3 separate regions of the Homo sapiens genome follow, and regions 2 and 3 are each linked to region 1. Evidence: fine-mapped expression QTL. A gene starts in region 1. Each other region holds a variant in brackets. All regions are shown on one strand. Distances are from middle to middle. Region 1 holds the start of NATD1 (N-acetyltransferase domain containing 1). Region 2 overlaps TMEM11 (transmembrane protein 11). Region 3 overlaps TMEM11-DT (TMEM11 divergent transcript).

What was found.
Region 2: its variant is fine-mapped to the expression of NATD1 in whole blood (TOPMed, PIP above 0.99).
Region 3: its variant is fine-mapped to the expression of NATD1 in whole blood (TOPMed, PIP 0.96).

The regions. Positions count from the first base shown.
Region 1 is chr17:21,248,448-21,256,625 of GRCh38, reverse strand. NATD1 (N-acetyltransferase domain containing 1) reads left to right here and starts at 3,216. Exons shown (of 3, transcript NM_152914.3): 1 at 3,216-3,467. The coding sequence starts at 3,362. RefSeq lists silencers at 3,215-3,324, 3,475-3,594 and an enhancer at 7,085-7,586.
Region 2 is chr17:21,205,709-21,213,886 of GRCh38, reverse strand. The region is part of intron 1 of TMEM11 (transmembrane protein 11); the gene reads left to right. Among named protein-coding and RNA genes, the nearest start is that of TMEM11, 4.4 kb to the left of the region's middle. RefSeq lists an enhancer at 8,149-8,178. The variant AATTT/T (reference allele first, on the strand shown) is at 4,438.
Region 3 is chr17:21,215,366-21,223,543 of GRCh38, reverse strand. It overlaps TMEM11-DT (TMEM11 divergent transcript), which reads right to left. Exons shown (of 2, transcript NR_184102.1): 2 at 2,811-3,179. Among named protein-coding and RNA genes, the nearest start is that of TMEM11-DT, 5.1 kb to the right of the region's middle. The variant T/C (reference allele first, on the strand shown) is at 4,447.

The DNA.
Region 1 (8,178 bases):
AATATACACCTACTATAAGATCCAGCAAAGGCCAGGTATGGTGGCTCATGCCTGTAAACCCAGCACTTTTTGAGAGACCAACACAGGAGGATCACTTGAGTCCAGGAGTTTGATACCAGCCAGAGCAACACAGAGAGGCCCCCAACTCTATGAAACTGAAAAAAATTAGCCCAGGATGGTAGCACGCTGTAATACAAAATTAGCCGGGCGTGGTGGTGCATGCCTGTAATCCCAGCTACTCGGGAGGCTGAGGCAGGAGAATCGCTTGAACCCAGGAGGCAGAGGTTACGGTGAGCCAAGATCGTGCCATTGCACTCCAGCCTGGGCAACAAGAGTGAAACTCCGTCTCAAAAAAAAAAAAACCCATAAAATATATATAATTAGACTGACAAAACAGACTCTTTTTTTCCTTTTTTTTTTTTTTTTTGCTCACTGCAAGCTCTGCCTCCCGGGTTCGCACCATTCTCCTGCCTCAGCCTCCGGAGTAGCTGGGACTACAGGCGCCCGCCACCACGCCCGGCTAATTATTTTTTTGTATTTTTAGTAGAGATGGGGTTTCACCATGTTAGCCAGGATGGTCTCGATCTCCTGACCTCATGATCCGCCTGCCTTGGCCTCCCAAAGTACTGGGATTACAGGCGTGAGTCACCGCGCCCGACCCAAAACAGACTCTTTGTAGCACTAAGATAACAAATTCCAACCTGACTCTGGTATAGCATCGCATGACAGATAACAGGCCCCGAAGGAAATTAACGAATTTTACCCAAAAATATATTATTCGACTTATTTTGGAATGGCCCTGCAATGCCATCTCTTGTGGGGGAAATTTGCATGTGTGGAGAATCCCCCTCCCTTTCTGGGTCTTTTTCTGATTAAGGAGAGATTTGACTAAGAGTCTGACACCTTTTAAAGTCCTAAAAGAGACATTTACCATCTATTCTTTCTGAAGCCTGCTACTTAGAGGCTTCATCTACATAATAAGAACCTTGGCTTCCACACACCCCTCCTTATCTTAACTCGAGTATTTCTTTCTGACATCAACTCTTTTTAGGAAAAGCTTAACTCTTTCAACCACTTGCCAATCAGAAAATCTTTGAATTGGGGGGGTGGGGTGGGGGCGCGAGGTGAGGGTGGCTCACACCTATAATCCCGGCACTTTGGGAGGTCTAGGCAGGTGGATGAGGTCAGGAGTTTGAGACGGATGGATCGCCTGAGCCTGGGCAACATGGTGAAACCCCATCTCTAAAAGAAATACAAAAATATTAGCCGGGTGTGGTGGCCCATTCCAGTGGTCCTAGCTACTTGGGAGGCTGAGATGGGAGGATCAGAGGATATTCTCGGTAAATATATCTGACAAAGGAACGGCTTGAGCCAGGTAGGCAGAGGTTGCAGTGAGCCAAGATGGCGACACTGCACTCCAACCTGGGTGACACAGCGAGACCCTGTTTCAAAAAAAGAAAAAGAAAATATTTGAATACACCTATGAGCTGTAAGCCCCCACCACTTTCTGGATGGCCGAACCAATGTACACCTTACAGGTATTAGGTCTTTGCCTGTAACTTCTGTCTCCCTAAAATGTATAAAACCAAGCTATAACCCGACCACCTCCAGCACATGTTCTCAGGACCTCCTGAGGCTGTGTCCAGGGCCATAGTCACTCATATTTGGCTCAGAATAAGCTCTTCAAATATTTTACAGTTTGGCTTTTTTTGTCAACACAATGGAATAATTACTCAGTGGCGAAAAAGATGCAAAAACAGGGATGAATCTCACAGATAAAATATTGAGCAAAAGAAATTGGACATTAAAAGTACATATTGGACTGGGTGCGGTGGCTCATGCCTGTAATCCCAGTACGATGGGAGGCCAAGGCGGATGGATCACCTGAGGTTGGAAGTTTGAAACCAGCCTGGCCAACATGGCGAAACCCTGTCTCTACTAAAAATACCAAAATTACCCCGGCTTGTTGTTGTAGCCCTGTAGTCCTAGCTCCTCAGGAGGCTGAGGCAGGAGAATCGCTTGAACCCAGGAGGCAGAGGCTGCAGTGAGCCGAGATCAAGCCACTGCACTCCAGCCTGGGCGACAGAGAGAGACTCCGTCTTAAAATAAAATAAAATAGTATATATTGTATGATTATGTTTACATGATGGTCTAGAGAAACCTAATTAGTCAACAACACTAGAAGTCAGGGACAGTGGTTACCTCAAAGGGTAGGGCATTGCTTGGAAGAGGGCCCTAGGGAACCACCAGTGTTCTGTATTTTGATTTGGATGGTGGTCACACGGGTGTGAACATCAAGTTTGCACCGTAATTAGCAAAATATTAAAAGTAACCTGTATGATTCACTGCACAGCTATGGGCAACAGGAGTGCCCCTTCAGGTGAGCAAGAGGGGAGGGTGTGGCTCTAAGGTTGAGCCTTGAGGAGCCTAATTAAGGCGCCTTTCAAAGAAGTCTGAGCCCCAACAGTCCTGTGTGTCTTCAAGCAAGTCCCTGCCCCTTTCTGGGATTCAGCCTCCCCATCTATGGAGTGGATCCAGGGATCCCCAAGGCCTCTTCCCGCATTTACGCCTCTCTTTGGGAGAGGTGGCATTTCACTCCTATCCCAAACAAGGCTTCACAGGACAATTCCTTCCCAGTAGCCAGTAGCCACCCAGGCTGCCAACACGGGTGGGTGCGCACTCCTAGCACCAGTAGCCCCAGGGCTTCAGCTGCGTGAGAACTTATGCATGTCTTTCACTTGTCTTAGCCTCTATTTGCTCATCTGTAAAATGGAGTCAAGCATACCTATTTCTCAGGCTTCTGGTGATAAATCTCAGCGCAGTGATTACTGAGCGCCCTGTGCGCCAGGGCTTTGCTATACACAGGCCGTGCACACAGCAAGTGCTTAATAAATGGTGGCTGCCTTGGGGACGATTAGAATGTCCATACAAAAGATTGTTACGTCTTTTTTAGAAGGCTCCTTGCGGGGGTCCCAAAGTTGCACGTGGGACAAACGCAAGACGGAAAAGTAGCCGGCGCGGCGCGGCGGCGGCCCGTGTTGTTTTGTTTGGGGCTGCGAGAGGAACGCGGCCGGCGCGGCCCCTTTAAGAGGTGACTGGAATGTATCAAAACAAAAAGGCCGCGCGTCCACTGGCTGCGCGCCGCACGTGACCTCACAGCTGATTTCCTGGCCCCCCCCCCACCCTTTTTGTTGCTGCCGCCGCCGCCGAGTGTCACTTTCAGCGCCGCCGCCTGCGGTCTCCCAGGCCGTAACTACCCCACCGCCTGCCGCCTGCGCCCGCGCTCCAGCCCCGCCGCGCGCCTGACCTTTCCCCGCGCGCCCCGGCCCCCGCCGGCGCCGCGCCGCAGCCCCGCGCGCAGATGGCGCACTCGGCTGCCGCCGTGCCGCTGGGCGCGCTGGAGCAGGGCTGCCCCATCCGCGTGGAGCACGACCGCCGGCGCCGCCAGTTCACTGTCCGGCTCAACGGTAAGGCGGCCCCGGCCCGCCCCGACCTTTTGTCTGCGAGCGAGCGGGGCCCGCCGGGGCCGCCCCCTTGCTGGGTGCCTGTCCCCCGCGCGCCCGCGGCCCGGCTCCGGCCCGCCGCCCGGGAAGGCTGTTGCAAGCGCGCGCCGCGGGGTGGTCCCGGGCGGCCGGAGCTCCGGGCGCGGGCCGGGTTGTGCTCGGGGCCAGGTGGGGGCGCGGCCGGCGCTCCGGGAAGTGGAACGGGCTGGGCGGGGGCAGACTTCCCGGGAGAGCAGGGGCCAGGGCGGACAGGGGCCCCTGGAAAGGCAGAGGCAGGAGCTGGGGCAGCGCGGGTCCCCTGTCTCAGCCGCAGGGGACCCGCACCTGCTCAGGCCCACTTGTTCACGACTGTTGGGCACCCACTGAAGGCTCCTGTTTGAGATCCTGGAAAGTTGGTCAGCCGTGACCTGTCCCCTTCTGCGGGTGGTATATGGCTTCCTGCTGCCCCTGGGAATCTTAGTCTTTCTACACGGGGGAGGCCTGCGGACCTGGGGCTGACCGCGAAAGGGGCTTGTGGTCCCCTGGGGGGAGTGAGGGGCGGGGGGATGGCTATCACTATCAAGACTTCAGTGGCTCTGGGACTGGCCATTTGCCTCACTTCTGTGTGCCTTAGTTTCTCCCTCTCTGCAATGGGAATAATACCAGTGCACACCCCATTGGCTAGTTGTAAGGATGAAAGACTGTAACAAATGTAAAGGATCAGACCAGCTCATGGGGGATTAGTAAGTGCTGGTAAACGTGGCCCGATCGTGATTCGTGAAGCCAGAAAGCAAGGGCAAGTTCTCCCTTAGTGTAGAGAAGTTTTTGTTTTTTGAGATGGAGTCTCACTCTGTCGCCCAGGCGACACAATGTTCCTGTGACACAATCTCGGCTCACTGCAACCTCTGCCTCCTGGGTTCAAGTGATTCTCCTGCCTCAGCCTCAGGAGTAGGTGGGATTACAGGCACCCACCACCATGCCCAGCTAATTTTTGTATTAGAGACAGGCTTTCACCATGTTGGCCAGGCTGGTCTTGAACTCCTGACCTCAGGTGATCCACCTGCCATGGCCTCCCAAAGTGCTGGGATTACAGGAGTGAGCCACCACGCCCTGCCAGTGTAGAGAAGTTTTGATTAGCCCATCCCCCCTCAGGAGGTCCCACAGGTAGGAAATAGAACTACAAAAACAAGGGCTATGAACTCCCTGTGGCCCACCTCGCCCCAGTGGGAATGTCCAAGCTGGACCGGTCCTTAGGGGCCACTGTGCCCATTTTCAAGAAGGGAAGGTGGAGGGCCAGGAAAGGGAAAGGCTTGCGAGAGGTCAGGCTGAGAGTTGGGCAGAGCTGGGATGGCGTCCTGACTGGTCTGACTCCCTGAACGGTGGGGCTCCTGCGACCCACATTTGGCTTCAGCCAGGAGGGGCCTCTGCCAGATCTCCGATGCCATTTGGAATGTGCCGAGTGTCGAGCCAGGCCCCACTACAGCTTCGTGGATGGGACTGTCACAATACCCTGACAATGTTGTGACATACCACCCCGTGTTACAGATGAGGAAACTGAGGCTAGGGACCTTAGGAAGTGATTGCCCAGCATCACCCAGAACTTCACCATTGGCCCAACCAACCCTACACCACCAGGCAGAGGCAAGTCCTGCTACTGCTGTGGTGCTGGCAGGGCTCAGCTGGCCAGGACACTCGGGGCCCTGGCGACTCTGGGAGAGAGGCCTCATGGCTTTCAAATCCTCTCTTCTGAGGTTCCAGAGCGGCCTCTGGTTCCCTTGTGGGCTCGGGAGGGCCATTATACTCAGAGACAGAAAGAAGAGGGGATACGTTTGTTTTTTTTTTTTTTTTTTCTTTTTCTTTCTCTTCCAAGTGGGTACAGCCAAAGGACAGCCCTCCAGAGCTGGCCGTGGTCAGGGCTGGACATGCCCAGCCGTATTTCTAAACTTACCCCCTTCTGGAATTCACTGCCCAGATAGCTGACCACAGATGTGGCTGGGCATCTCCCCAGCCAAGCCCAGGGGAGAAAGAAGAGAGAGGCCAGAGGCCCCCAAGGGAGTGGCTGTGCAGCACAGGGTGGGGCTCTTCTGGGCTTCCAGGCCCCACTGGGTTTGGGTGTGTGTCTTGGGACCAGAGAGGGGTCGTCTGAGTCTGAGCCCAGGCCTCCCTGAGCTGAGGAGGACAACAGGCTGTGGTGTCATTCCCGACCTGTAAGGCAAGCCTGGAGGCTGGTGCTGTTGTGCCCACTGAGAGATATAAACACTGAGGCTGAGGGGTCAGGTAGCCCCAGGCTCCTGGTGCAGAAGTGTTCCTAGGCTGTCCACATAGCACAGCTAGGCTGATTCTCTTCCTGCGAGCTCTGGTTCTGAGTGAGGGAAAACGTTTGAGCACCTTTGTTTATTAAGCATTTACAGTGTTCTAGGAGGCCCTGGGCACCTGGAGTCACTTTATTTCATAGCCACACACCACAGGGAGAGGGGAAACTGCATTTCCCATATACAGATGGGGAGACTGAGGCATGGGGAAGTGAAATGACTTGCCCAAAGTCTTGCACCACAGAGGTGGAAGAGCTGTGATTCACCCCGCAAGTATTTGTTGAGCACCTACCATGTACCAAGCACTCTTTTAGGTGTCGGGGTCTCCTGGGGCTGACAGTTTAGAGAGGGAAATGGACAAGAAATAGAGTCAGTTTTAAAGTATCCTGGAAAACAAGGGCTTTCATGAGAGGTGCAGGGGGCAGAGGGGAGGCTGTGTTGGGCAGGGCTGCTATTTACAATCATGTGTCTAGGAAGGCCCCTCCCTGGAGGGTGGCATTTAAGTGAAGACCTGAAGGAGGCAAGAAACAGAGCTGCAACAGGGAAGAGTGTTCCAAGTGGAGGGAATAGCAAGAGCAAAGGCTCTGCAGTGCCTGCGATGCCTTGTGTGTGCAGGATGGGTCAAGAGGTCATGGGGAGCAGGTGGTGCAGGGCCTGGAAGCCGTTGTCCTATGGGCTCGGCTTTGACTCTGAGGCTCCCAGGAGGGTCCTGAGCAGAAGACAGATGGGATGCCCCAGCTCCCTCTAGCTGCTGCTCTAAGGGGAGCAAACTGTGGGGACCAGGACAGAGCAGGGAGGTGGTTACTTTACTAGTCCAGGCACTGCAAACAGGCGTGGGAGAAACGTCTAGATCCTGGACAGATGTGGAAGGAAGCATGGCTGTGACTTGCTTGTGGGTGATGAGGGAAGGCTTGAGCTCAGGCTTGTCTGATGCCATATCCTGGTTCTGAAATGCAAGCTTGTCATTACTTTATAGATGGGGAAACCAAGGCGCACAGCCTGTAGGCAGCTAAGCCAGAATCAAGCCCCCGGCCTCCATCTGAGGACGGTTTCTGAAGGTTGGAGGCAGCTGGAAGAGACCCCCACCTCCTGGGCAGCCCCTTCCTTAGCCTTCCCTTTCCCTCACAGGCAGGGCTGAGTGTCCCACTTGCTGCAAGGAAAGGAACACTTGAGGGGTGCAGAACCCTGGAACTTTCTGCGTCCTCCCTAACCCCCATTTTGCAGCCAGGAAGACTGAGGCCCCAGAGAGTCAGCTGCTGCCCCTGGCCTCCCTCAGCACCCCTGGATGCAGTGGAGCTAAGATCACAGCCCCAGGCTTTGGGAGGTGCTCAGATCACAGCCCCAATATGAGGCCGCTGGCTGTGTTGGGCTGGGCTGGACCAGGGTCCTCTGGGGAGGGGAGGGACGTATGGTTGAGCTTCTCCAGGCTCACAGCTCCCTCTGCCTAATCTACCAATGAACCACCAACATGTGGCACCTCCCTGATCCAGGCTCTACTTACAGAGGTGCCAGAAAAGCCGGCCAGGGTGTCTGCTTGTCCTTGTCCCGTGCCACAGCTCTGGCGCCTGGGCTCTGCCTCCGTCTACCTCAGTCTCCTCATCTGTATATTCGCGTTTTGATCTGCCAGCTCTCCTTGCGGGGTCAGTGTGGGCCGAGTGGAGAAAGCAGAGGTCAATGTCTTCTGCAGACTCCACATCTCCCAGAGGTCCTGCCCCTGTCCCCTGTCTGCAAGCTTTGGTCTTTCTCTGTGATCGCCTCCCCTGACAATTTCCTGGCCCCCTTTGGTCCCGAGGTTCAGGAGGGGCAGAGAGAGCATGGGGGTGCAGAGACCCAGGGACGGGTCCCCCACGAGCAGTGTAGCTTTAACTTTTCCCAAACCAGTCACGTGATGCTGGTGGGGTTCTCAGGCCCAGGAGGGAGGAGGGTGGTAGTGATCATCCAGGGACAGGTGAGGTCTCTGGGGCAGAGGGGTGTCAGGACTGGCATAAGATCACCTGGCAGAGTTGAGACTGGAACTGAGGGCCCTGCCCTGCCCTAGGCTTGCTCCTGTGGCTCCCAAGTGACAAGTCTTGCCCCCCTGTGCTAGTCTGAGGTCTGGAGTTCTCAAGGCAGCTCTTAGAGCTGCCCAGATAAGGGCCTGGGCCAGGCCCAGAGGCTATGCCTATGTCACTGTGAGCCGAGACAGCAGGATCCACAGTGCCCAGAAGTGAAAGCGTGGCTGACAGTGCTACCCTGGTGTCCTGCTGTCCCATCATGGGGGCTGCGGGTGGTCAGGGGAGGCTTCTGGGCACGTGACCTTTGGGCTCACCTGAAATGAGAAGGAAGGGTCCCCGGAGGCCCTGGGCAGAAAGGTGACAGGCAGGGGAGCAGCCACCAAGGCAGGG
Region 2 (8,178 bases), 43 kb after region 1:
AGGGGCGTTAGCCGGGCTGAGTAAGGTAGGCAGCGGCCATGCGGGGCGGGGCCCGAGGCCGGGCCGTGCTGAAAGGAACTGGCGCCCAGCGCAGGCCTCAGGGACCCGCCTAGCTGCCCGCGGGCCGATCGGCTGCTGAAGCACCCTTCCCGCCTGGGCACGCGCGTGGCCATCTCGGCCGCGGCCCCAGACGTGTAGAGGAAGGCAGGGCCCCCGGAGAGAGAAAGAAGGGGAAGCCTTCACAGAGCAGGCCGGCCGCGGCAGGGGTAGTTTGATCTGCACGTTTACTAGGGAGCTTTAGCTCCCGCCAGATGTGTCTCTTCCGAGCCCAGAGCCGGCCACTTCCTCGAGGGAAGATTCTGAAGACTTTTGGATGGTTCTGTGCAAGCGCTCCTGCCGTAGAAGTCCTTTAAAGTGACCTTTCCTAATGAATGGTGTGTGGGCAGGGAGCTAGGAGCGTGTTTCTTCCAACAGGGACCTCCATTTGAATAACTGATTTCTAGAAGATGAGATTGGAGTAGTTTCCGTGTTTCATGTTCAAGTTGCAGTTTTTGCATCTGGGAAGCAGTTTCAGCTAGTGGAAACCACTAGAAGCTGTTCAGCCACTAGAAATTTGGGAGAAGATGTATTGGTGGAGCCACCTGGATTAACTGTCCGCTAAAGCTTGATTGTTATAGCAGCGGTCAGCAAAAAAGGAAAAGTTTTTGTTTTGCTGGTTCTCCCCCTCCCCGTCTTTTTGGTGAGGATTGTCTAACAGAAAAGTTATCTTCCTCTCAACTACTCTGCATTATTCCTTTTCTGTGACTGATTCCATCCCGTGTTCATTGCTATTGCTTGCAGATGGCTTTCCCAGCTGGGAAGATTCTTCCTGTTTGGCAGTTGTGATAGAATCCTTTAGCTTGCTTGCACTTTATTCTTTAGCCCAGTTATCCAGCGTTGCCCATTCTGCATTTCCTCTTCCTTGGAAAAGCAGTGGTAAACACACTTTTGTTTTTCTAACTCCCGCCTGGTATTAGATTGGACCATTTAAATAAGTTACCTCAATGGTTTTCAGATGCTCTTAAAAACTAGCAAACATTTTCAAGATATTCAATGCAAACAGTAATACGAAATAACCTGTTTAGAAAACAAAGTATTAGAAACATACGCCCTCTTGTTGGACTAAAAGCATCTGAAAAGAGCCGAATAGGGATGCCTCAGGCAGGGAACAGGAGCCTTGCCAGCACAGGTTAAGCTTTTATTGATCTAAGAAAATAGATGCTGAGAATTGTTTTTGTTTTGGCTTGAGACAACTGTTTATTCAAAATGGATCTGCAAATTAGCAGTGCATAGGCTGGATCCAGTCCTTGACTGTTGAACCTCAACAGTTTTTAAGAGAATTTAAATTAGTTGCCAGCAGATTTCATATAAAACGCTCCCTGAAAAGCTGGGTAGTGGCTGACTCTTTTTGGTCGGGACAAGTGCTTGGTTCCAGTTCTTGGTTCCTCACCTGACAGCTTGACTCAAATCACCTGACAGCTTGACTCAAATCACCTGTCAGCTTGACTCAATGCATTTGCCTGCTTGGTCTCTGTAGGTGTTCAGGTTGCACCTTTGGCCTGGAACTGAAGGCTCTACTCACACACGCAGATGTTGTGTGTCAGCAGGAATGTGGCATTTGGTTTTGTAGTTTGGATGTCACCATCTACTCTCCTAGATAACGTGGTATGGGTGGAGACTACCTGTCTGTTTGCTCTTGCTGTAAACCCCTAGCCAGGTTCTGTTGGAAGAGTCATTTCCCCGAGCCCAGCTTCCCTAAGCTCTTCCCATGCTGAGCAGGGGATGGAAACATAACCCGCTGTGGGGCTAGCGAGCTGACTTCTGGGCATCCCTCCATTCCTGCTCAGTTGGTGATGACTGTTCAGGTGGGGCAGGGCGGATTAGCTGATGGCCCAGCACTCTAGATTATGAGATCTGAGTGTATTATTGGCTCTTATGACTGAAGTAGGCTGTTTATGGCTCTCTAAAATGACTTTGTTCCATGTCACATTCGTGCTGACTCAAATCTCAGCTCCATGTTATACGAGTGCTCTCTCCCGTTGCTGCTCACACCTGGTTAGCATCTGCTTTTGCTGAAGCTGAGGGAAACATTATCTGGTTTGGGGAAGGGGCTAGAACAGAGTGACACTTTGGGCACACTTGCCAGATTTGCCAGCGGCTACCAACTCTGAAGCATGCATTGTACTTAAAGGTCCCACCCAGTGCCAGACTGCCTGCAGTATTACTGCCGGCGCTGTGTGTTGGATGGTCCAGTTTAGCACGTGTAGCGTGTGGGTTCTTGCTTTACCTTGTTGAGTCTAGAACCACAGCTCTAGAATTAGTGCTGAATTAACACAGCAGTTCAGTAGTCACCAGCTACATGTGGCAATTACATTTAAATTCATTAAAATTAAGTAAAATGAAGAATTCAGCTCCTCAGTCTCACTAGCCACATTTCAAGTGCTCAATAGCCACTTCCGGCCTGTGGCTACCATATTGGACAGCATAGGTGGAGGACATTTCCATCACTGCAGAAAGTTATGATATGGACAGTGCTGGTTTCGACTAAGATAGGAGGGGTGGAAATAGCAAAATGGTAGTGCTTGCATGTTGATTTTTCTCTCCACTCCATTAAATCTAGGGAACCAACAGTGTTTGTAATGAAGAACATCAGACTCTGAGCTGTAACCTGAATTCTTGTCCAAAATTCAGCACACTGGCAACGAGCACATCAAACAGATTGCCACTTGTCCTGTCGGCGTCTTTGAGACACACTTGCCCATCTAGGAAAGCACAGTGCAGGTATCTGTGTTCTGCCACCGTGTGCCAGCCCGGACCAGCTCACAGACAGCCCTGCCTGTCTTACTTGGGCTGCTCGGCTTCACTGTCTCAGGGCCCCTGAACCTCCCAGAGCCCTCCGTGATTGTTGGAATGTGAGTATAGCTGTGTGCTCTTGAGTTCCTGTTTTTATAATCACGTGAAGATGTACTTGATCTGCTTCTGAGCATGATATGAGGCAACCTGGGGTGTGCAGAGGGCCAGATGCACGGGGCTAAAAGTTCAGGTTTAGCGCGAAGTTATTTGTTGTGGCCTGCCCCTCCCCTGGCTTGCGCGGCCATCTGCTCCAGCGTTTTATAGGCAGCCAGTTCCCTGGGCTGACTTTCATGGCTTTCCTTGCCATGCTTTATTCCCCAGGACCTGTCCTCTTCTTTGTGAACTCAGGTGTGCCTGGTCCCAGGTGGCCCTTACACGTTCATCCAGTGAGCAGATGGAGCACAGGCCCCGGGGGCAGGTTGGGTCATGGTCCCGGGGTGACAGCTTCCCTTTCTGATCTGATCCTTCCCTTTTAGACTCTCAGGCTTTGGGAGTATTTAATCTCTCTTGAAAGACTCCATGCTTGCTTTTGTGTGTGGCGGGAGTTTTTGTTTCCTTCTGGCTGGGATGAGATGAGCAGATACGGGATCTGCACCCAAGTGTGTGGGGGTTTAGCCACTGGTTGTGGGATTCTGCTCAGCTCTTTAACAAAGGCAAAGCCACATGTTCTGGCCGCAGAAGTTGGATTCGTAGGTAAGGATGGGGTTCATCCTCTTCAGTATTGATGTGCCTTCAAGTTTTCAAGAATTTCTGTTTTCCTTGGTTCACTCAAGCAGCCTGGATTCCAAGTGCATTAATTTGTGTCTCAGTGGTTCAGTCCTTTAGGTCATGTTCCAGGGAAGGCTCCCCTTTCTGAAGAGGGGAGGGCTGCGCCTGGGTCCACGGAGGTGGGGAGGTGGCTCCTCTGCCCCGGCTTGTCGGTGTGCACCTGTTCTTCAATGAGCGAGGTGCGGGGGGTGGAGTTGGGCAGCACTCCATGACCGAGCACACCCGGGAACCTCCTGACTGCCACGGTGTTCCGCCCTGGTGCCAGCAGCCACTTTATGGGCACAGTTCTCAGGAAAAGCTGACAGCCATGTAGTAGTCATAACAGTTCTTCAGAGCAGGGCTGTCCAGTAGGAGTTTCTGGCATGACAGACTCCTGGCGTGTCCCTGCAGTCCATTAGGGCAGCCATTAGCCACGTGTGGCTCTGAGGAACTGAGGTTTCATTTATTTATTTATTTTATGAGACAGGTCTGGCTCTGTCACCCAGGCTGGAGTGCAGTGGTATGATCTCGGATCTCTGCAACCTCCGTCTCCCTGGCTCAAACCATTCTCCCACCCCAGCCTCCCGAGTAGCTGGGACCACAGGCATGTACCACCACGCCCAGCTCATTTTTGTATTTTTTGTAGAGGCAGAGTTTTCACCATGTTGTCTAGGCTGGTCTTAAAATTTGTGGGCTCAAGGAATCCACCCGCCCTGGCCTCCCAAAGTGCTGGGATTACAGGCGTGAGCCACTGTGCCCGGCCAGGAACTGAATTTTTTAAGATGTCTAATTTTAATT[AATTT/T]AAATTTCAACAGCCACATGTGTCTTAGGCAGAGGGGCAGTGCTTGGCGACTGTTCCCATCTTCACTGCAGTCCTCTGGGAGAGCCAGGGCCTCTGGCCCCGTTTGACAACATGGGAAACTGGCTCAGAGGGGCCGGGTGTTTTGCCCTAGGACACAAAGCCAGTAGGCAGCCGAGAGGGAACTTGAATCCACCCTCTCGACTCCCACACTTGGTGCGCCGTGTTCCTGCTCCCCAGATAGAAGGGCTGCTGAGTTACCAGTGCGCAGAATAGGAAAGTGTCCTCTGAAGCAGACGAAAGGGCTGGGTGTCCTGTGAAAGTTCCTTGGCCTGTGGGAGCCGTCCTCAGGCCATGGGGCCGCATGCCCGTGCCTTTGAGTCTGGGGCACGGGCTTTCACTGCTTCAGTCCTCTGCTTTCTGTGGGTCCCAAAGAAGCAGGGCTTAATTAGGCAGAAGCGGGTGGAGGTCCAGCCCAGCACCTCCTGTATCATAGGTGATCAAGTGACCCTTTCACTAAGTGAAAAGCAGCCTGACGGATGGGTTGACTTTTCTGGTACCAGTTCTCTTAATAACCATAATTGTTTTTCTCCTCCTGTGACTCCTGTGGCTCATGTCTGTAATCATTACAAATGTCCCTCCAACCTGTGTCTTTTGGGAACCTGTTACATTCAGGCCCAGTGCTGGGGAAACTACGATGAAAATGCAGCCTCTGCCCTCATGGAGCTTCAGGCCTGCCTGTGAGCCCGGGCCCCACTCCAAGAAGGGGCCTAATGTGGATGCTTCCACTCAGATTTGCCTCTGCTGGGTCTCTCAGAACTGGGAAGGTGATTGGTGGCTGGCCTGGCAGCTTAGCCAGTGTTTGCTCAAGGGAAACGGAGCTGGAACTGCCCTCCTCTTTTTGGGCAGGACTACAGGTACACACCAGCATGACACCTCAGCCATGAGAAGCTGCCCGCGTCCAGACTTCTGCCTTTCATGGACACCGAGAAGGTTCTGGAGCAGGAAGTGAGCCACCTCCCGCTCTTCTTGGCAGTGGAAGGAGGCCCTCCCACGGGTATCTGGTCCCTTTACCTCAAGGGATATAGGGTTGAACAGAATTTTTCTTTTTAAGAATAAGTTTATAATTATTTTTCCTGTTATAAAAGAAACACTTTGGCCGGGCGCAGTGGCTCATGCCTGTAATCCCAACACTTTGGGAGGCCGAGGTGGGCGGATCACGAGGTCAGGAGATTGAGACCATCCTCGCTAACACAGTGAAACCCCGTCTCTACTAAAAATACAAAAAATTAGCCGGGCGTGGTGGCGATTGCCTGTAGTCCCAGCTACTCTGGAGGCTGAGGCAGGAGAATGGCGTGAACCCAGGAGGCGGAGCTTGCAGTGAGCCAAGATCACGCCACTGCACTTGAGCCTGGGCGACAGAGCGAGACTCCGTCTCAAAAAAAAAAAAAAGAAACACTTTTTTTTAAAAAATATAGAAAAGCATGAAGAAATTGACAAGTCACCTATTAGGCCACCATCCAAAGAAAACCACTGTTGATCTATTTTCTTGTTTCTTTTGAGACAATGTCTCGCTCTTGTCCCCCTGGCTGGAGTGCAGTGGTGTGATCTTGGCTCACTGCAACCTCTACCTCCTAGGTTCAAGCGATTCTCCTGCCTCAGCCTCCTGAGTAGCTGGGATTACAGGCGCCTGTCACCACACCTGGCTAATTTTTGTATTTTTAGTAGAGACGGGGTTTCACCATGTTGGCCAGGCTGGTCTGAAACTCCTGACCTTAGGTAATCCGCCCGCCTCGGCCTCCCAAAGTGCTGGGATTACAGGCGTGAGCCACCGCGCCTAGCCTGATCTATTTTCATGTATAGCACCTTTGATACTTTGTCTTATATATCTTGCCTTAGGGGTTTTTAAAATTATATTATTGAGACGGACTCTCACTTTGTCACCCAGGCTGGAATGCAGTGGTGCAGTCTCGGTTTACTGCAGCTTCTGCCTCCGGGGTTCAAGCGATTCTCCTGCCTCAGTCTCAAGTAGCTGGGACCACAGGCATGCACCACCACGCCCAGCTAATTTTTGTATTTTTAGTAGGGACACAGTTTCACCACATTGGCCAGCCTGGTCTTGAAGTCCTGACCTCAGGTGATCTGCCCACCTCAGCCTCCCAAAGTGCTGGGATTACAGGCGTGAGCCACCATGCCCAGCCTTATCTTAGATTTTTTAAAGTTATATGTTAAACACATCAAAAGTTATGTTTACAATATGTGAAAAGTAATAAACATGCCACAGCATGATGGCCCTTAAAAACATAATGCAAAATGAAAGAAGCCAGTTGTTGAAGACCACGTTACAGGATTCCATTTAAATGAAATACCCAGAATTGGCATATCCAGAGAGTTGGGAAGCCGACTGGTGGTTGTGGAGGGCTGGGGAGATGTGAAGGGACCACTAATTGGTACAGGGTTTCTTTCTGAGATGATGAAAATGCACCAGGATCAGTTGTGCTATTGGTTGCACAACTTTGGGAAAGCCACTTCATCGTTCACCTCCGATGGGGGAGTTGCTCTGTGAATTCTATCTCAGTAAAGCTGTGAATTCTATCTCAGTAAAGCTGCCATTAAAAAATACAAATCAGGCCAGGCATGGTGGCTCATGCCTGTAATTCCAGCATTTTGGGATCACCTGAGATCAGGAGTTCGAGACTAGCCTGGCCAACATAGAGAAACTCTGTCTCTACTAAAAATACAAAGTTAGCTGGGCGTTGTGGCACGTGCCTGTAATCCCAGCTGCTTGGGAGGCTGAGGCAAGAGAATTGCTTGAACCCAGGAGGTGGAGGTTGCAGTGCTCCGAGATTGTGCCACTGCACTGCAGTCTGGGTGACAAGAGTGAAACTCCGTCTCCACAAAATAAATAAACAAATAAAAATAAAGAAAATGAGACCAGGTACAATGGCTCTTACTTGTAATCCCAGTGCTTTGGGAAGCTGAGGCTGGCAGATCACTTAGGAGTTCGAGACCAGCCTGGCCACCATGGTGAAAACCCTGTCTCTACTAAAAATACAAAAATTAGCTGGGCGTGGCAGCACATGTCTGTAGTCCTAGCTATTTGGGAGGCTGAGGCAGGAGACTCGCTTAAGCCCGGGAGGCGGAGGTTGCAGTGAGTCGAGATAGCGCCATTGCGCTCCAGCCTGGGCAATGGAGCGAGACTGCCTCAAAAGAAAAGAAAACGGAAAATAACAAGTGTTGGTGAGGATATGGAGAAATGGGAACCCCTGTGCGCTGCTGGTGGGAATGTACAATGGTGCAGCTGCTCTGGAAAACAGTATAGAGATTCCTCAAAAAAACTAAAAAATTGAACTGCTATATGATCCAGCAGTTCCACTTCTGGGTATATATACCCCCCCCCCAAAAAAAGCAGGGACTCAAAGAGATGTTTGTGCACCCATGTTCATAGCAGCATTATTCACAATAGCCAGTGGTGGAAACCGAAGTGTCCATCACAGATGAATGGATTAACAAAATGTGGTTTATGCATACGGTGGAACATTACTGAGCCTTAAAAAGGAAGAAAATTCGGATACATGCTACAATATGGATGAACCTTGAAGACTCGTTATGCTCTGTGGAATAAGCCAGACACAAAAGGGCATATACTATATATGATCCAACTTGTATGAAGTACTTGTATAGTCAGATTCATTGGGGTAGAAAGTAGAATGGTAGTTTGCAGGGGCTTGGGGTTGGTG
Region 3 (8,178 bases), 33 kb after region 1:
TCCAGCTCCCTCTCAGTCTTGCAGCTTCTCAGAAGAGGGACAGGTGAGGTGAGACAAGCCTGTCTTCATTTTGAGGCCTTGATCCAACTGGGAACGGGGGTGCTAGGGACTGAATTGTGTCCGCCTAGAATTCCTGTGTTAAGGACCTAACTCCCAGGACCTCAGAATGGGACTGTACTTGGAAACGGGGCTTTTAGGAGGCAACGAAGGTGCAATGAGGCCACAGGGTGGCATCTTAATCTGACAGAAAGGGTATGCTTATAAGGAGAGAACTCTCTGTGTCTCTCAGCCATGTGGGGACACAAGAAGGCAGACATCTGCCTTCAGCCGGAACGGGATCTGCCAGCACCTTGATCTTGCACTTCAGCCTGCAGAACTGTGAGCAGGAACTGTGTTGTTTCAACCACCCAGTCTGTGGTATTTGGCTAGGACAGACTCACATACCTCCTTACCTAGGTAGACCTCCTTCCCCACTCACCCCTAAGTATGTTCAGTGATATCGCCTGCCTAGCACTCACCTGAAAATATCTCATTCTTGAATGCCTGTCTCCCCAGACATGGGTTCCTTGCGGATGGGGCTGACCCATGAGGCTGCCCTGGCTCCCAGCCTGGAGCACACATGCCCTAACTAGGAGTGGGCAGAAGGATGGACAGAAGGAGAGATGAAAAAGTGTGATGCGATGCATGGGCGCTTCCTAGAATCTGTTTCCCATAACGTTAACTACCAGAGCAACTGCTGTCATCTGGCCAAGGGTTCCCTGGAAGTGTCTGGTGTGAGCAGGGGCCTTGCTGTGGAAATGCTGGACAAGAACAGGGCCCTGTTTGAGCAACAGGAGCCGCAGCCTCTTGTGGCCACCATGAGACACTGGGCAGCGTGGGCAGGCGCCTCCACCCATGTGCGTTTCCCAGTTCATGAAGTCAAAATGCTGCCAGATGTCTCACCTTCCACATCGTTGTTGTCAGGATGACACAGGCTCTGCAGTGAGCTATGGGAAGTGAGGGGCTGCAATGATCAAACCATCTTTGCCTTGCTTGCCACACCCTCATGTGACCAACTTGGCCCAGTTTGCCCAAAACTCTCCCAATATTAAAACTAAAAATCCCATGCCCTGGGACTCCCCTCAGGCCCAGGCAAGCCAGGACAGCTGGCCACCCTTCCACATTCCTGCTCTGTTTTGGCCCCTGCCTTAGATGAGGGGCTGGCCACATGAGCTATGGAAAGGAGGGGCCTCGTCCATTCATCTCTCCACCACCAGGGTTGTACAAGCACGCGCTAAGGTTCTAGTGACAAATGCATCTCCAAGTCTGCACCACAAGCTCAGCATTCTTGCTGTTTCCATTCTCCGCCAAGGCGGACAATAACATAAAAGAGGGCTCATCTGTGCTTTCCTAGACTCACATTGTAAAACTATGGGACCAGTGAGGAGTTCCATTTGCATCTTGGGGCAATGGGGTGTGCTTGGGGTTCCCTAGGAGTACTGCCCATGCTCACACCTTGGTGCCTTTCCCATGTCTGAGGTGGAAATGTTGATGTGGTGGGATAGATCAAGGCTCCCCAAGGACATCCTGGCTGCATGGTAGCCAGTGGCTTTTTTGGCCAATGGCTGGGCTTCTCTGCTGCTGAGCCCTGTTAGGCTAGCTTTGGTCTCACCAAGTGGAGAATGTCTGCAGAGAGGCCTTTAGAAGGGGGTTGATTTCAGTGATCTACTGCTGCATAACAAGGAAACCAGGGGCATCAAATCACAGCCACTTCATTCTGCTTGTGGATTCTGTGTGTGGGGAATCTAGAGAGGGCTCCACAAGAAGCAGAGGGCCCTGTCCCTGCTCAGCTGTGATGCTCACTAGAGCTTTGACACCTGGCCTCTCCACATGGCTTGGGCTTCTTCAGCATTAAGACTTCAGACTTCCATCACAGCACAGGGAGCTCCAGTGACAGAGCCTCTATGGCCTTTTAGGAGCCAACCTTAAAAGTCATTCAGCATCACTTCCTCTACACCCTGCTGACTGAAGCAGTTATAGGCCCACTCAGATTCCCTGGGAGGGGACTTAGGCACCACCCTGAAGGAAGGAATGCCGAGGAGTTTGCTGCCATGCTTTTAAACCACCACAGGGGTGCTGGGGGAGAGTCTTCGCATATGGAAAAGGTGGGACAGGGGAGGCTGAGAGAGAGCGAGCGAGCAGAAGAAAGTGAACAGGTGAGAGACAGAGTGTGGCCACTGTGGTAAGTCCTGGGATTTTGGAGAAAAAGCCGTGCTATGTGTGATGTCACCATTCTCATCCATCTCCCTGGGCAACTTCCACCAAGTCCACACCATTTGTCACTGCTTCCAGCCTTGGATTTCTTTTTATCTCAATGATGTGACATATAGGACCAGCCTCTGAGGTGCCTGCCAGGTAAAGGCTACCTCCATGAGGGTGGGGCAGGGCCAGTCCAGAGAGGCCTGGGGATGCCCAGATGGCAGTGTGGAGCCCTGAAATGAAGTAATGATGACTGGAACTTCGATTCACTGCACACACACACTGCCTCACTGTATGCTGAGGCTGAGGCTTCACTTTATTTTTTGAGACAGGGTCTCACTCTGTCACCCAGGCTGGAGTGCAGTGGTGCAGTCATAGCTCACTGCATCCTCCAGTTCCTGGGCTCAAGTGATCCTCCCACCTTGGCCTCCCAAAGTGCTGGGATTATAGGTGTGAGCCACCTCCCCGGACCCGAAGAATTTTTTTAATCCTACGTGTTATGGGCTGAGTTGTGTGCCCCTGCCCCTCACCCTCACTTCAATTCAAATAACACAATCTTAACCTCCCAGTACTTCAGAATGGACTGCATTTGGACTTTTATTAAAGAGAAAATTAAGTTAAAATGAGGCCATGAGAGTGGGTCTTAACCCAATCTGACAAGTATCCATCTAAGAAGAGCAGATTAGGGCTGGGCATGTTAGCTCATGCCTATAATCCCAGCACCTTGAGGGGCCAAGGTAGGTGGATCACCTGAGGTCAGTTGTTCAAAACCAGCTTGGCATTTAGAACGAGGAAACATTTTAGAATGAGGAAAGGTAGGAAAGGATACACACCAACCTTTCAATATTGTTAGGATCACAGCAGTGCAGGGTGGCTTGTGGAATTATTAACTCTTATGACATGTCACTGAAGAACAAGATCCTGTAAGTGAAATTGCATATCTGGGGGAAAACATTGAAGCTGCACATTAATGGATGGAATGAGAAATACAATCTCCAGTAACAGAAATTTTAAATGTACTGTTAATGAATTTTTTTTTTTTTTCAGACGGAGTCTCGCTCTGTCCCCCAGGCTGGAGTGCAGTGGCGCAATCTCTGCTCACTGCAGGCTCCACCCCCCGGGTTTACGCCATTCTCCTGCCTCAGCCTCCAGAGTAGCCGGGACTACAGGCGCCTGCCACCTCGCCCGGCTCATTTTTTGTATTTTTAGTAGAGACAGGGTTTCACCATGTTAGCCAGGATGGTCTTGATCTCCTGACCTCGTGATCCGCCCGCCTCAGCCTCCCAAAGTGCTGGGATTACAGGCATGAGCCACCACGCCCGGCCTGAATTTTTTTAAAGTAAATAAACTCTGACTTTTTTCCTTAGTAAATACAAATTATTAAGGCCACCTTTTAAAAAGAGCATCATATTCAAAACGTTCCATTTCACTCATGAGAAATTCAAATTTTACAGAAAACAAGATGTCATTTTTTAAAGAAACCTTTTTAAGGATAATTTTAGATGTACAGAGAAGTCGCAAAAATAGTACAGTTCTGTATAGCCTTCATCCTGGTTCCCCTGACATTAACATCTCACATAGTCATGGTATGTGTCAAAACTAAGAACCAACATTGGCAGTTACTATTAACTGAACTCAAGACCCCATTCAGATTTCACCTGTTTTTTGTTTTTTTTTTCCTTTCTTGAGACAGAGTCTCACTCCATCACCCAGGCTGGAGTGCAGTGGCATGATCTTGGCTCACTGCAACCTCCGCCTCCCAGGTTCAAGCGATTCTCCTGACTCAGCTTCCCGAGTAGCTGAGATTACAGGCTTGCACCACCATGCCCAGCTAACTTTTTTTGGTATTTTTAGTAGAGACGGGGTTTCACTATATTGGCCAGGCTGGTCTCGAACTCCTGACCTTGTGATCCGCCTGCCTCGGCCTCCCAAAGTGCTGGGATTATAGGCATGAGCCACCACACCCAGCCCAGATTTCACCTGTTTTTCCACAAATGTCCTCTGCTACCATATTGCATTTAGCGAGATACCACTTTTAAATTTGCAAAAAGAAAACACTTGCTAACAGACCATGCTGGCACAGCTGTGGGGAAATAGGCAGTGTCATGTACTGCTGGAGGGAGTGGGGTGTAGTCTGGCAATATTTATCAAAACAACAAGTGCCTACACTCTGACCCAGCAAGTTCTCGTCAGGAAATTATCCCAGTT[T/C]TATTTGCAATGGGTACCAGGAAGTGGCGCAAACATGTTTACTGCAGCACTCCTTGAAATAGTAAAAGACTGTCCAGAGACTGGCTGATACAATTATGGCATATCCAAACAATGGATTATCATGTACTGCTAAAACAAATCAGATATATACTGATACAGAGTGATCTCCAAGATACAATTAAGTGGAAAAAACAAAAACAAACAAGAAATGGAGGAATGTGCATAATATGCATCCTCTGGGCCAAAGAAAACATTTGTTAATATATGTCTACTTTATATCTGCAGAGGATCCATAACAAAGGTACCAGTTATTGCCTGCAGAGGGTTGTGGACAGAGATGGAAAGAGCCAGGTCACAAGAAGATGAGCAAAAAAACCCCCTTATTTTTCACTGTATATTGTTTTGTAATTTGAATTTTATACCATGTGAATATACTGCCCATTCAGACTTAAAATTCTACTTTTAAAATGCTCATTTTGATGCTTTTAATGGTAAATTCAAACCTTTATGTAGAACTATTATACCTAAGATATTGTTTTGGAAGATTTGCCTTTCCCTGAATGCTACTACATGCTATGAGGAATAAAAATAGGCTGAGTTTTTACTCCTCAAAACAGCCCTGCAAGATAGGCGCTGTGTGAATGGCATCTATTTTCTCCCCTACACCTGCCTTTCTATACTCTCCATGGTCAGGGCTGGAAGCCAAACAACTACATTTCCCAGACTCCCTTGTCATCTGACTCAGCCAGTGGGAGGCACTGGTGGGAGTTTGGAAGATATGAGATGGGGAAAGCAATTCTAATCTCTGGCTTCTGGTGGCACCCCAGGCCACAGCGGTGGTTCCAGTTGTGTGTCAGTAGTACCAGGCAGCAAGTGTGGCTCCAGGCTCCTGCTCAGCAGCTGAGGAATCAGTCTCTGGAAACGAATTTTCCTGTTGCTCCTCTAGCCTTGTGGGGGTCAGGCTTTGGGTGCCCTTGTTCTCCCCTTGTTTCTCATGCCCTTCCAACACCTTTGTAAACAATACCCTGTATTAAATGGTTTTTCCTCTAATTACACACTGGCTAATACAGATAAAATTACTCATATTTTACAGGTGAGAAACTGAAATTCAAATAGAGAAAGTGACTTAACCAAAGGCAAGCTAAGTACCACGCTTGTCTCATGATGCTCCAGCCACCTTGGTCCTAACCTTATTGGACCACCCCAGGCCCATCTGCACTGCAAAGCCATTGCATTAATTCGCTCTGCACAGAACATTCTGTCTTCAGTCCTTCGCATGCACACTCTTTCAAGTCCCACTCAAATGTTACCTTTTGATACAGTCGGGTTTTCGTTTTTAAGAGACAGGGTCTCACTCTGTCCCTCAGGCTGGAGTGTAGTAATACAAACATAGCTCACTGCAGTCTCAAACTCCTGGGCTCAAGAGATCCTCTCACCTCAGCCTCTCCAGTAGCTAGGACTACAGGCACGTGCCACCATACTTAGTTAATGTTTAAATTTTTTGTAGAGTCAAGGTCTCCCCATGTTGCCCAGGCTGGCCTCAAACTCCTGGACTCAAGCTGTCCTCCTTCCTCAGCCTCCTAAAGTGCTGGGGTTACAGGTGTGAGCCATTGTGCCCAGCCTTCAAATGTTACCTTTTTAGAGTGACCTCTTACCACCTGTGATCTCCAAGTCACTCCATTATATCATCCTGTTCCTTTTCTTCTTGGTACTCCTCTCTGAAAATATTTACTTAAGTTGTTTATCCCATTGGAATGTAAAGCCCGTTAAGACCCAGGAACAGTGTTTGTCTTACTAAACACCGTATCTCTGTGCCCAAGAGTACCTGCAGAGTATGCCTTCAACGATTTAAGAATGAATGAATGAAAAGTGTAGTAAGAGAAGTAGCAGATTACTTTGAGCACCAGCGAGGACATGCCTTTCCACTGGCTGCCTTCATACAGCAGGACAGAGGGCTCACGGGAGTCTCCACCGCAGGACAGCCCCCAGGAACTAATTCCCACCACTCAGGCTGTGCCCTCCAAAGGTGCTCAGCTAATACATACTGAGTCAATCAGGCTGCCTATGAACCTTCCAGACAACCTCCGTGCATTAACAGTAATCAGGAGGAAACACCGTGAGGATCTTAGACCAAGTTGGCAGATTAGAAGCAGACGGTCATTCAGAAGTTAAGGGGAGAGTAAAAAGCTGGAGAAATGGGATGTTCATTAGGGCCACAGTTGTTTCAGCATTTACATTTACTCTATGCACTAGACCTACCTCCAGTGCTTCTGGAGAGGCACAATGGCAGAGTGTAATCTCTGTAACTGGACAGTCTGGGCTCAAATCCTAGCACTTTCCTGGCTGGCAGTGTGAGCAAGTCACTCAGGTCGTCTGTAAGTTGATTTCCTCATTTACAAAATGAGATTGTTGATTAAAAAAAAAAGTGATACTATTATTAAGACAGAGTCTTGCTCTGTCATCCATTCTGGAGTGCAGTCGTGCGATCTCAGCTCACTGTAACCTCCACCTCCCGGGTTCAAATGATTCTCATGCCTCAGCCTCCCGAGTAGCTGGGATTACAGGCGTGTGCCACGATGCCCGGCTAATTTTTGTATTTTTAGTACAGACGAGGTGTCACCATGCTGGCCAGGCCGGTCTTGAACTCCTGACCTCAGGTGATCCACCCGCCTTGGCCTCCCAAAGTGCTGGGATTACAGGCGTGAGCTAACGCACCTGGCCAACAGTATCACTTTTATACAGTTGTTGTGAAAATCAAGATGTAGATCACTTAAAATATAAAACAGCACTTGGCCTCCATACACGTATCACCTCATGAAATACCGCAATCCTCTGAGGGGAGATACTATCATCCCATGATACAAACCAGGCAGCTGAGAAACAGAAGTTACACAAGCAGCCCCTGAGCCAGAAGTGCGTTCTAGAATCCCTAGTATACCCTCTGAATCACCACACTGATACAAAGAAAAGACAGCCATATCCGCAGTGTCATACCATGGAACTGTTAAGAGGTCTCCAGCATGAACTACGCTGACACTTGGAGGCAGGGCTGTATGACTCAACAGGAAGGCCAGGTACTTTTTAGAGACCAGACAGGTACAAGGTCTTGAAGGACAAAAGTTGGCTGGGAGAGCTGGGCACCGTGGCTCATGCCTGTAAATCCCAGCACTTTGGGAGGCTGAGGGGGATGGATCATGAGGTCAGGAGTTGGACACCAGCCTGACCAACATGGTGAAACCCCGTCTCTACTAAAAATACAAAAATTAGCTGGGTGTGGTGGCACCACCTGTAATCCCAGGTACTCAGGAGGCTGAGGTAGGAGAATTGCTTGAACCTGGGAGGCGGAGGTTGCAGTGAGCCAAGATCGCACCACTGCACTCAAGCCTGGGCGACAGAGCAAGACTCTGTCTCAAAAAAAAAAAAAAAAGTTGGCTGGGAGGTAAAAGCATTTTAGGTAAAGCATAGAACATCTACGTATCTGCAAACCCTCTGAATTTACTAGCCTGGCAAGTTCCAGACGGGAAAGGTAGGCAGTTGAATTTGGAGAGCTAGGCAACTTCCAAACTAAGGAGGGGCTTCTTGATTGTGCTAAGGAATTTGAATCACACACTGTAGGTGATGAGGGACGGTGAGAGGATTGCAAGCAGCTAAAACTGTGGTAGAATGTCAGCTGGAAGGAAATCGAAAGGAATCCTCAACAAGGAGAGGGTCGCCTTTCCGTCTGCTGGCCCT